Linked DNA regions of Homo sapiens. The protein of the gene in region 1 purifies or fractionates together with the protein of each later gene. This does not show direct contact. Each region holds a gene or a part of one and is shown on either strand. Other genes may lie near its edges.

Region 1 (3,627 bases):
TTGGTGGTTTTGAGTTTGTTATTAAATTTTCCATTTTTTGATCCCTGTAGGAGTAACTAATAAGATTAAACATTAGCACTTTTCAGAAGTCACTGAGTAATGTGATGTTTGTTAATACAATGTATATCGTTTGAGACCCTGTTATGTCTAAGAAGAACGTGATACTTTTGTCTGGTTTCTAAGGACAAGCTGAACCACACTTGTTTTCTTTGTGCTTGTTTTCTTCAATACATCAGTATTTATTAGACATTTATTTTTTGCAATGCTCAATACTGGATACTGCAGGGTATACATAAGTGACTCAGACATGGATCTTGTCTTAAGGGAACTTGAAGGCAAGTTTATCTATAAACTCAAATGTAGTTTATCTATAATATAACAGAAAAATTTCTGTGAGAGTCTAGAAGAGACAGATTATTTATGGTTAAAAGGCAATACATAAATGAAGAGATAGGGCTTTGAAATTGCACATATTGAGTTCTCACCTTCACCACTTAGTATCTGAGATTTGGCTAAATACCTAAACACTGAATTTTTTCCAGTGTTTTCTTTATCAAGGCTATTTTTAAATGTTATTTATTTATTTTTTTGAGATGGAGTCTCACTCTCACCCAGGCTGGAGTGCAGTGGTGTGATCTCAGCTCACTGCAACCTCTACCTCCCAGGTTCAAGCGATTCTCCTGCCTCAGCCTCCCGAGTAGCTGGGATTACAGGCACCCGCCACCACGCCTGGCTAATTTTTGTATTTTTAGTAGAGACGGGGTTTCGCCATGTTGGCCAGGCTAGTCTTGAACTCCTGACCTCAGGTAATCTGCCCACCTCAGCCTCCCAAAGTGCTGGGATTATAGGTGTGAGCCACTGCACCCAGCCTATTTTTAAATATTTTAAATTGCCTACTGTAAACCACTAACACAGAGCCTTTCAGGTATTATGTGAGTATGTGTGTTGTGGATGGCAGGTAGTTAGCTAAAACTAATCTTGTAAATTTGTGATTTGATTAGGAAAGAAAGAATATAAATTATAAGGGTGGGCCTGGCACAGTGGCTCCTACCTATAATTCTAGCTCTTTGAGAAGCTTAAGGTCAAGAATTTGAGACCAGGGCAACATAGTGAATCCCCATCTCTACAAAAAATTTTAAAACTTAGCTGGGTGTGGTGGCACACACCTGTTGTCCTAGCTACTCAAAAGGCTGAGGTGGGAGGATTGCTTGAGCCTAGGATTTCAAGGTTGCAGTGAGCTATGATAGTGCCACTGTACTCTAGCGTAGGCAACAGAGTGAGACCCTATTCTTTTTTTTTTTTTTGAGACGGAGTCTCGCGCTGTCGCCCAGGCTAGAGTGCAGTGGTATGATCTCGGCTCACTGCAACCTCCGCCTCCAGAGTTCAAGGAATTCTTCTGCCTCAGCCTCCCGAGTAGCTGGGACTACAAGCATGTGCCACCACACCCGGCTAATTTTTGCATTTTTAGTAGAGACGAGGTTTCACCATATTGGCCAGGCTGGTCTAGAGCTCCTGACCTCGTGATCCACCTGCCTCGGCCTCCCAAAGTGCTGGGATTACAGGCGTGAGCCACAGCACCTAGCCGAGTGAGACCCTATTCTTAAAACAACAGCAGCAGCAAAAACAGTGTAAATAGTAATGCTATGGTTTAAGAATTTCAGGCTGAGCATGGTGTCTCATGCCTGTAATCCCAGCACTCTGGGAGGCTGAAGCGGGTGGATCACCTGAGGTCCGGAGTTCAAGACCAGCCTGGCCAACATGGTGAAACCCTGTCTCTACTAAAAATAAAAAAATTAGCTGAACGTGGTGGCAGGCACCTGTAATCCCAGCTACTTGGGAGGCTGAGGCAAGAGAATCGCTTGAACCCAGGAGGCAGAGGTTGCAGTGAGCTGAGATCATGCCATTGCACTCCAGCCTGGGCAACAAGAGCGAAACTCAGTATTAAAAAAAAAAAAAAAGAATTTCAATTTACTCAGCCAGTCCCTTGCTCTAAGTCAGCAATATAATGACAGCCTTAAGGGTTTCCACCTACTCTTCAAAATGGAAAATGTATTATATTATCAAACATTTTATTTAACCCAATCTATAAAATATTGCCATGCCAACACATAATCAATATAAAAACTTTATTAATGAGTTATTGCACGTTTTTAGGTACTAAGTCTTTGAAATTTGGTATGTTATTTTGTACTTGGTGTACATCTCAATTCAGTCTAGCTACTTTTCAAGAGCTCCATAGCCACATGTGATTATTGCCTGCCATATTGGGCAGTATACTTTTAGGCAGCATTGGGAAATGGACTTAAATATAAGTACTGAACAAATAGCTTGGTTCCTGTAGTCAACCATGTGATGATCAGATGTGACATACGCATATACTGGACAAAGCAACATTGAGAAAAAGGAGCATATCCATTTCTTGTTTATCTTATTTATAGGCATAAATTCTCTTCTCCCCAATGTTAACCTTGCTTGAATTTCATCAGATTTAACAGTGAGACTCAGCGGCTAGTGTCCAGTATCTCCTCTAGAGTGCTTCTTATGAATAGAAGTAACAGTGGCAGAAACACGTAAAGATCCCCCCTGCTGTGTTTTCCATTTCTTATATTTGCTCTTTTGGAGAAATGTTAGTCTGCTTTCAAGAAAAAAGGACAGAGTAGATAATCTTTTTGCTGGTTCGAGATCTAGAATTACGACAAGCTTGCTGACAGTGGGAAGGATAAGAGAAGAGAGGTTGCTGTTTTTCTTTTGTTCAGCCTTCTCTTCTCTGTTCCATAAGTGCTCTGATACAAAGATTTTCTAGAGCTAAAAAATGTTTCAGTCTTTTTTAAAAACCTTATGTGGCTCCAGAGTTTAGCACAAAAACGCACCCTTGCAGGCATGTCTTTCTTACCTTCTGTTTTTCTTATATGGATGTTATCCATGTAAACGCTTGGAAGAATTTGAAGTGAAATCAAACAATTTAGATTGGAATAGTTGTCTATAATTTGAAATTACTAAACTTTTTTTGTTTCTTTTTTAGTAATTTTATGCGTCAGGAGTGTTTGGATTCCAGATTTGTATTCGATAGACCACTGCCTGTGTCTCGTCTTGTATCTCTAATTGGAAGCAGTATCCTTTTTATGTTAGCATTTATGGATATGAACTTTGAAGGGTTTTGATACTTGTGTTAATTATTAGGAATATAATAATAATATGACATAGGTAAGATTGTGAAAACTTTAAAACAACAAATTGGATTGCTCTTTCATTAGCCTTTATAAGCAATTTATATTTGCTAGACACAAATAAGCCCAACTTCAGGAAAATCATCTAAGCATCTTTTTAGAGGGGATTTAAAGTTTCTTAATGGTTCTAGATGTCCCAAGAAATCCTAGACCCCTTGTATCCAAAACAAATCAGGTTTTAGATGGGAAGAAATTATTTTGCTGGCACTCTTTCTTAGGTTCGGTAGAAAGTCAAACATTTTATATTAGGCCAAAGAAATAGTGTCCTATTGCATTATTTCTCTGGTGGATTATGCAACAATTAAAGAATAAGCCAGAGACCTTTGTTAATAATGTATAATTTGAAAATAAAGACAGTACTTCATTCCTTGTTAAAACAAGCTCGTTAACCAGTCTAAGA
Region 2 (3,429 bases), on another chromosome or scaffold:
AGACTGGAACCCACTCCAAGTGGTGGGATTAAAGATTAAACGCTAAAGAGTACAAATGACCAAAGCAGGTACCTGAGGTACTCTGGATTTGGGATAGAAGAGAGGGGAGAAGGGAAGACGATGAAATAACAGGAAGAGAAAGAAGGACCTGAAGCCTCTGAATCCATAAAAAGGAAGGAAATCAAACTATAATTGACATCTAAGTGCCACGGCACTTATAGTTTGCAAAGCATTTCTACCTACGTGCTTAATCCTAAAAAGAACCCACCAAGGTGGGGATTACTCCAACTTTATAGATGAGGAGACAAAGCCTAGAGAAGTCAGACTTCACAAGACCGCAAATGCAGTAATGGGGCAGTGTAGGGAGGTGCTCAAATGTAGGCCCAAGAGAGAACACAGCAAAAAAGGAGTGCCCAGAGGAGGGGTTTAGGGAGAACACAGCAAGAAGAGACGTGCCCTGGGGTTTCACTGCAATGAGGAGATAAATGCATCAATTCACAAGGCAGAATTCTGAGGAATGCACACACAAATCTAAAGCATATTTATACATCACTTTAATTCTAATTGAGGATGCACGTCACAGTCATGTCTGATTGAAACTCTTAGATTACAGTCTTCAATCCCAACAAAAATCCCATTTCATCCCTCTATCACTCACAGCCAAATGAGGAAGTATATACTGCCCACTTTGCCTCTCCTTCACCAGGTGGGTCAGTATGAGCCTTTTGGCCCACACACTGCTGAGAAGGAAGCTCAAAAGATTAACCCCTTAAAAACAAAACGGGAGCGCGGCCTGATGACAAACTGAAATTCAATCCATTTATTTACACGTACATTGTACATAAGTTTACAAATTCTCACTTCTGCCACTCAGCTAGAACTTTTCGGGGAAAGCCTCCATCTCTTCCTTGATCCTGTTTTCTACAAGTAATGCGAAGTTACTGTCTGTGTTCTGAAGGTTATAGCTGACAAACACCTGTTTGTTGGTCTTCCTGGCTAAAAAGAGAAAACACATTGATACAGCCACTCCTGAAATACTGCAGGCCCCGTGTTCCTCACAGCCACGTGCAGCTGGGAAATGCTCAGAAAGAGGATGGGGTTGTAGGGAGAAAAGAAAGCTCTAATCTCCATGCCTCTCTTCAGACAGGTGCTGCAAATGCAGACGAGTCACTCAGGCCTCTCCCAGTCTCTCCACCAGACCCAGGGTTCTGAAGGGCAGGCCCCACCTCAGCAGCCTCCCTGGAACTTGTTCGAGAGGCAGCTGCTGGGCCCCACCCAGCCCTCCTGACCCAGAAAGCCAGGATTTGGGGCCAGCTGTCTGCTGGAACAGATCCTGCAGGTGCCCCGCACTGCTTAAGAACCTCTGCCCTACACAGAGGGGTTTCTGGTGTTTTGATTTAAAAAAAAAAAAAAAAATTTAAACACAAAAAATGGCCGGGAGCGGTGGCTCACGCCCATAATCCCAGCACTTTGGGAGGCCGAGACGGGTGGATCATAAGGTCAGGAGATCGAGACCATCCTGGCTAACACGTTGAAACCCCGTCTCTACTAAAAATACAAAAAATTAGCCGGGCATGGTGGCGGGCGCCTGTAGTCCCAGCTACTCGGGAGGCTGAGGCAGGAGAATGGCGTGAACCCGGGAGGCGGAGCTTGCAGTGAGCCAAGATCGCGCCACTGCACTCCAGCCTGGGCAATAGAGCAAGACTCCGTCTCAAAAAAAAATAAGTATTTAAAATAAAATATTAAAGTTCTCCTTCAGCACCACCCCACCCCAACCAGTTCCACTTCCCTCCCTCCTACGTTTCCATGCATTTGCATATATGTGTATACACACAAATATATTTGTGTGTGTGTGCACAGATAGGCATATGGACACACACGTAATTTTCTACTGAATGTAAGTTTTAGTCCCCTTCTACAGAATCAATAGAAAATGGCTGAGGTGCACATTGGGCCAACTGCAAAAATCAAGCAGAGTCATACACCTGGAATCTGAAAGCCAATATCCTGAAAATACGTGGGCAAAAAGGCTAAAGCAGTTGGATGTTGCCTGCCCCACTGCGCGGCCTCCTCCTTTAGCCTCACCCATACGCAGGGCCAGTGCAGAACTACTCACCCCTGGAGAGGCACTGACCCACCCCCACCTCAACATATGGCAAGCATGTACTTAGCCTCATCACCAAAAGGCAAAAGGGTGGTGCGGTGAGGCTGAGGGCACCAGGCCACCTGCACCATTACTAAAGGCCGATTTAGAACACACGTCATGGGATCTCATCTGGGCAGCAGTTCTGTCCTTTCAGTTGCTGCCATCTGAGCTATGGTCCCACCAAGAACCCTGAGAGGCAGTGTGGCTCAGGGGCGCAGGTGCAGGCGCAGGCCCAGGCCCCACCGTGGCCTGGAAACCTCTCCCAGCTTTGTTTGGAAATTGAGGAGAGGGAGAGCCCAGGACCCCAAAAGCCTGTTTTTCCGCTGTACAAGGCTGCGTGATTTTTAGGGCTGGAAAGGTCTTGGGTATTAACTCACTGACTGTCCTTACAAAGCAGCCAACACACCTATGAAAAAGCAAGGCGGCGGCAAGCACAGCCTCTGCCTGAGGACAGCTGCTGAATTGTATGACATGTGTTTACGTCTCGGTAAAGCTGTTTTTTTATTAAAAAAAAAAAAAAAGGAATGTGTCCGGACAAAGGCAGCTGTTCGGTTATTCCAAGAGCTGGTGTTTAAAGAACAGCTTACAGTACTTAGCACAGAGCCTCCCACCAGTGTGCTGGGTGCAGTGTGCCCCCGAGGCGGAGAGTTGTGCCCAGTTATCTGCTCAGCCCTGCGGGGAGTGAGGAAGCCTCTTAGGCTTCCCCCACCATTAGGGACCAACCTCATCCTTTCCTAGCTGTGTTAGGCAGGCTGGGACCACTCATGTAGAGGGTGATCTAAAGGCAGGCAGTGTGGTAGGAAGCTGGGGCTCACCAAGGCTGCCTAGGAGGAGCCTGTAAGTCACACCCTGCCCTATATCCCAGGGGCAGGAACATCCCCCTTTACCCTAAGGGGGCCCCCCTGGTATTCCAACTGTTCTAACTGCAGAGACAGGATTTCTGAGGAACAACGCTGTGTCTGGAGGCACTGAGCCCCTCAGACCCAAGCTGTGCCCCTCCAGGGCCATAGGAGGTTGGGTCCCCTTGGCCACACCAACTCCTGCGATGCTTCCAGAGCTACTGAGAACCCCCCAGGCCTTCTCTTTCCCTACCTGCTTTCATCTCTCATATAAGATACTGATTCAGGACACCTCTCCCTTTTCATTATAGTGCATTTTCAACTTGAGGGCCCAGACCCAGGCTCAAGGCAACTGGCAAAGCATGGGACTTTGCTGGAAAACCTTCTTGGTCCGAGCTCTGCAGCACCATTCCCTTAAGAGACGCCGGAAGCCACGGCACACCC

What was found. Proteins that work in one complex are often made in the same cells at the same time.
Region 2: the proteins of PSMA1 (region 1) and PSMG4 purify together in Homo sapiens (affinity purification with mass spectrometry; 4 studies listed by BioGRID and IntAct, with this or other methods). This does not show direct contact.

The regions. Positions count from the first base shown.
Region 1 is NC_000011.10:14,513,887-14,517,513, reverse strand, and holds part of PSMA1 (proteasome subunit alpha type-1), read left to right. Parts: intron 1-3,022; coding exon 3,023-3,111; coding exon of another isoform or gene 3,112-3,161; exon of another isoform or gene 3,162-3,604; intron 3,605-3,626; coding exon 3,627-3,627. UniProt on the Homo sapiens protein: Component of the 20S core proteasome complex involved in the proteolytic degradation of most intracellular proteins. This complex plays numerous essential roles within the cell by associating with different regulatory particles.
Region 2 is NC_000006.12:3,265,158-3,268,586, reverse strand, and holds the end of PSMG4 (proteasome assembly chaperone 4), read right to left. Parts: exon of another isoform or gene 997-3,429; coding exon 875-996; 3' UTR 538-874; downstream 1-537. UniProt on the Homo sapiens protein: Chaperone protein which promotes assembly of the 20S proteasome.